Linked DNA regions of Homo sapiens: region 2 is linked to region 1. The links come from fine-mapping of genetic effects on gene expression. Tissue or cell type: T cells. Region 1 holds a variant in brackets; the other region holds the start of a gene. All regions are shown on one strand. Distances are between the middles of the regions.

Region 1 (2,757 bases):
TACATAAGTGACTCACCCTTGTGCCCTGTATTATATTCTCACTGGACAGAGCTGATCTGTAGCCCCAGACTGTTTCAGACCATGCCTTACCCCACCAACCAGGGTCCAGCTGCTGGGGCTCAGCTCTATCCTAGCTTGGGTCTCTGCACAGTGGCAGCTTTGGTGACCAATATACTCTGTAACTGCTGTAATTTAGGGGTGTCCCTGACTCTGAAGCCAACTGCAGAGGTTGAGAATAAGAAATAACTACATTTTCATGCATTCACTCACATTTCTCCTCCCAACCCACCACTCTAACTGTCTTTCTTTTAGCACAACTGTTGTAAATACATGATCCCCAGAACAGCAGCATCGCATCACCTGGGAACTCATTAGAAATGCAGATTACCAGGTACCATCCAGAAACTCTGAATCAGAAACTGTGCCCAGCAATCTATGCTTTAACAAGACCCTCCCCACGAGGACATTATTCTGATGAATTCTAATGTTTGAGAACCAGGGTCTTAGGGCACTGTTTCTGAAACTTTGTAGTGTATTAAAATCATGTGGGGTGCTTTAAAAAATTCCAATGCCCAGGCCACACCCCAGGTCAAGTAAATCAGGTTCTGTGGGGGTAGAACCCAGGCATCGGATGGATGTTTGGAAAACTCTCCACTGATTCCAATGTGCAGTCACAGTTGAGCCCCATTGCCTAAGGGTAAAGAACTCAAGAATATTAGTCGGCCATTTTCCCTATGGTGGAGAGCCTGTAGCTTTGAGCCCCGTAGAGAGAAGCCTTCCTGTGGGAGGAGAAAACAGTGTGTAAAATGAAGAAAGGGGCCAAACTGGGCATGCCTAAGCTTCGAAGGCCTCTTTCATTATAGGCTAGCTGCTGTAATGAAACAGGCAATTGCACCTGAGATTTTTCTGAAGTTGAAATGACCACGTGGAAAGGGAACAGCTTCTCTCCACAGTCCATCAAGAGGGGAGTGGCCAATGGGCCGCTTGGAGGACAAAGACCAGGGACACGCCCATTATCTGAGGCTTCAGGTATATTAAAATGAAGAAATCCCCAAATAGGGTTTCAAAAATTGTGATATACTATATTTTAGAAGTTTACATTTAATAAATTAAGGCTTTAACACGTGTAAGCTTTAAAAAAAAAACGCACAGGGTAATATAACCATCCTATTCACGGGATAATGGCAGGATTAATCTTAAAAATTCATGGGCCTGGTACCAAAATCAGGCATAAGTTTAAAGCTGATGATCATTTCCATCTTTTCAGTCTTATTAGCATATCTTCAGAGATAAATTTTTAAAAATCCAAATGTGAAGTCTCTGTGAGTGTGAGATCCCTGGATGAAAGGCCCTCCTTTGCCATGCCCCTGGGGCAGACTAAGAGGACCGCTGGAAAGAGATCCTAAGTGTGGCCCTGGAGCAGCTGTGAATGATTAGGTTGTGGGAAGACAACTGACATCTGGGTGCCTTGCGGCAGCCTGACCAGGGAGGTGGTGTCAGGGAAGCCAGAGCACCCCCCTTCCTCAGTGTGTTCCAGAGCAGTACAATACCTGCCTCCCTACACATAATGGATGCCTGCCCACCACCCTCTGTCCTCAGGCACACTTGGCTGCTGACAACAGGAAGTGAAACAGCCACACCCTCCTTT[G/T]ACCCTATTAAGGTAACTCCTAGTTTGATACAGAGGCTTCCGGGGAGGGAAAGAAATAAGGGAGACACTTACCTTGTGCAGCACCTGCAGTGCTGTTGGTTTATAAAAGCACGAAATCTTCTGTCCCAGAGGCTGGACTGGGCTCATGACTGCATGTGAGATTGTGCTTTGGGAAGAGAAAGCAATCCCAGACTGAACAACAATTTTCTGGTGGCAGGTGCATCCATGAGGAGCTGCAGTCGGTCCCAGCAGCATATGCTTTCTCCTCTGGGAGGGCAACTCGGAGACGTGCAGACTAACGGGACCACTGGCTGCAAGCCTCAGAAACCTCTCAGGAGGTCCCTGGCAAGGCCTGTGGTATCTGGGCAGTGCAGGCAGCCTGGGCACCATAGGACAAAGGGGCGGGGAGTGGGGCAGGGAAGAAACAGCACAGAGGAAACAGCACACCTTGTTCTCATTGACTCGGAGTCAATGGCTGCCCACAGACTCTATTTCCTGGAGATTCAAGCCTCACACTGTCCTGTCCTCTCCCCTGAGTAAGTCTTCCAGAGAGTAAGAGCCACACCCAGGCAGAGGTGGGTGAGGCTGGGGTTCAAAGTACAGAGCCAGCCCTTTTATCTCATAGGCAGAGGAAATCATCCACTGTAAACCCACAGCGTCCTCCACCAGGGCAGCGTTTGATTCCTCCGTCTCATATCTCCGCTTGCCTTCCCTGTGGGTCAGTAGTTCCTGAGTTTCTCTAGCCTATAGAAAACATGAGGAGGAGGAGGAGAGATGGAGGGGGAGGAGGAGGAGAAGAGAAGGGAAGAATGAGCACATGGACTGCCCAGCCCCAGCCCCATGGCACCAGCATGGTAAACACTTGGAGGGAGGCCAGCCGTCTGGCGCCTCCAGTCTTCCACATCACCCCAGCCAAGATTCAGACCTGTATATTCTGGGCTCTTTCTGCCCCATTTCACCCAGGCTTTAAATTACCCAGACTTGGGTCTGGGTTATTCTATCCAAAACTTTCCTCTGAAATCTAGATTGTGATGCAATGTATACGTTCTCTAAATCAGATTTCTGAGGACTAAATGCCAGACCGCGTGGCGTAGCAGTCTGGCTGCAAA
Region 2 (2,757 bases), 130 kb before region 1:
TATCTAGTAGGTTACCTAGACGGTTAGTAATACTTATCTACAAACACTGAATAAGAATACCGTTTTATCGTATTACAGTACAAATAAACTAGAATTGACAGCAAAAGGTTTCATTAACGTATTTTTAAACCAAACATTATTCCAAATGTCTAATCGCTGCATCTAGATGAAATTTTTGTTAGGAGAACCATTTTAAGTGGAAATGTAGAGCAAGCTCCCATGAAGTGAACGAGATCCTTCATGCGGATAAACACCACCTAACATTCTAACTGAATACTGGTTCTGGATTTAAGTGGAATTGACAAACTCGCCCCCCGCCCCTACCTGTAGAAAGCAACATAAGCAAGTACTAGTAAATACAGCGAAGCATTTTGCTGTTTTACACCTGAACATTTAAAAAAAAATTCAGTTTCCTGCCTATCACAAAGGAAAAAATAAATGATCGATAAGAATTTAAACTTAAAACGTAAGCACAAACCCATCTATATGCCTATCTTGCTCTATCTCAAAATATTTGAATTCCCATTTATTAAGCGATGGCCAAATCCGAATTTCTATCACATGGTAGAAGTATAAGCGTCTCCCCTACAACTTTTTCGGGATTTTACTAAACGGCCTAATAACAGTTTGCCCTTACTTCCGTGCACCTTTCAACCTCAGCTACACCCCGAGCCTCCAGCTCTCTTGCATTTCTAATAACGCTGAAGAGGGAGGGTGAGAGGGAGTATTTCTGTGTGGATAAGTGCGCGCGCGCTCCCGCGCGGCTCCCCACCCCCACCCCGATACTTTTCTTTAGTGGAAAGAGAGGAAGAATCTGGAGGTTATTCTAGCGAAAACTCAGTATCAAAGCCTCAACCCAGTCGCAGTCAGCCCATAGGACTCTGGGCTCTGGATGCGCAGTGCAACTTCTCATATCTTACTCCAAGCTTCAAAGCAGATGGAAAATTGGTGAAGAGAACCCAGGGAGGAGTCGAGGAGATGAGGGAAAGTGAAAGGGCCGATCCCCCCTACAAGGCGTTTAAGTTTGCAACCGAGACTGTGTTTCCGCGAATCTGCACCCGCCCCGTGTACCCTTTCCAGGTGGAACTCGTTAACAGCAGCAACCCGGCCAACGGACACCGCCACCTCCCCTCTCGACGGACCACCCGAGACTCGAGCAAGTGAGGCGGCGGGCGAGAGCGGACGCCTGGCGGGGCCGGCGATCCCCGGCCAGCATCAGGCCTCCGCCGACCCTGGCCCCGTCACCTGTGGAGAAAGCACCCCCTCCCCCGGCCTCTCTGCCCTTCACGCCGAACGTATCCCTAACGCTGCAGCTGCTGCCCGCCCGGCCTGCGAAAACCGAGCGCAGCGCCAGGCTCCCCTCGGCGGCCGCGGGGCCCCAGCCCCTTCAACTGGTTACAACCGGCAGCGGCGACCGAGCGGGGCAGCTAGCCGCAGGAGGGTCCCCGTCCGGGAGGGGGCAGGCAGGCTTGGAGGAGCGGGGTCCGCAAGGTCCTACCTAACAACGTCGGTCTCCTCCGTCTCCTCCTCAACGGCAGCGGCCCCGGCGGTGGCGGCGGCAGCGACATTCCTGGGGACCGCTCCCGCCGCCGCCGCCTCCTCCTCCACTCTCCGCTCGCCTCTCTTCCTCGGCGCGCTCACCGAGCGGCGCGTCCCTTCAGCCACCTCCCCCCGCCCTCCCCGACACACACGCCCCGAAACCCTGAGCCCCACGGCTCCCGCAGCCAGCTCACCCACCCTCCCTCCCTCCCTCCCCGCCACCAGCGGCGGCCCGTCCCTCCCCCCTTCCCCAGCGCCCGCCGCCGCGCCGGGCTCAGTAATGGCGGCCACTCGGGCTCCCTCGCGCTGACGGATTTCTCTCCCTCTCTCCCGAACTTTACCTCAGCATCTCTCCCGGCGCGCGCAGCCACACACCCGACCGGGGGCGGAGCGGCGGCGCGGCGGCGCAGCCTGGACGGGACGCGCGCGCGCGCGCGAACCCGCGCTGCCCTCCCCACAATCCCCCGTCCCCGCCCCTTCACCTCGCGACGCCTCCCGCGCCGCGCACCCGGCACGGCCCCGCCCCTGCCCTCGTCTCCCGGGAGCCTGGGAAGGCGCGAGCTATCCAGTCGGAGGGAGGGGGACGAGCGCGCGGGGCCGCGTCCTCGCTCGCGTCCCCGCTCCCTCCTCCCCTCTGCTTCTCCCTCCCCTCCACTCCCCCATTGGCTTCTACCCCTCCCCCTTCTTCCTCCGCCTCTCCCACCATTGGTTCCCTCCCCTACTCCATTCCTTCTCACCTTTTCCCTTTTACCCATTGGCGTGAGTATTTTTCCTCAGCTTCCCTCTTTCTCCGTATTCTGCTCCTCCTCAGTCCCATCCTCCACGCTTTGGAAGCTACTGCCTTACTGCCCGGAGCGCCGTCGTCCCCGAACCTCCCCTGCTTCTCCCTTTCCTTCTGTTCCGGTTTCTGGTCGTAACTCAAGAGCAAACCACCGTACTGCAAAGGAACCAGATATTGTGCTCGCGGTTCCAAACCGGGCATGGGCACCGAATGCTTCTCGATAAATCCCCTTATGGTCTCTGAGCATTAAAGAAAGCAAGGGAGGAAAACATGCGCCCAAGCTCGTTCGCAGGAACATGTTCGCGTGTCTGCGCCTGTGTGCGCAGCCAGTTTTCTGGCTGAGGATCGCTCGCCAACTACAGACATCACCCGCCCAGGACCCGGTGCCACACTCACCCAGAAGACGAAACTCCACAGGAGCGAGAAGAGGAGTCCAT

What was found. PIP is the estimated chance that this variant, and not a neighbour inherited with it, causes the effect.
Region 2: ARHGAP5 starts here. The variant in region 1 is fine-mapped to the expression of ARHGAP5 in T cells (TOPMed, PIP above 0.99). The same link has a PIP of 0.9 or more in blood mononuclear cells and whole blood.

The regions. Positions count from the first base shown.
Region 1 is chr14:31,944,072-31,946,828 of GRCh38, reverse strand. LINC02313 (long intergenic non-protein coding RNA 2313) reads right to left here and starts at 1,976. Exons shown (of 2, transcript NR_146544.1): 1 at 1,721-1,976. RefSeq lists an enhancer at 1,495-2,694. The variant G/T (reference allele first, on the strand shown) is at 1,649.
Region 2 is chr14:32,076,177-32,078,933 of GRCh38, reverse strand. ARHGAP5 (Rho GTPase activating protein 5) reads right to left here and starts at 1,630. Exons shown (of 7, transcript NM_001030055.2): 1 at 1,499-1,630. It overlaps ARHGAP5-AS1 (ARHGAP5 antisense RNA 1 (head to head)), which reads left to right and starts at 2,235. Exons shown (of 1, transcript NR_027263.1): 1 at 2,235-2,757. RefSeq lists silencers at 1,277-1,571, 1,370-1,589, 1,950-2,209.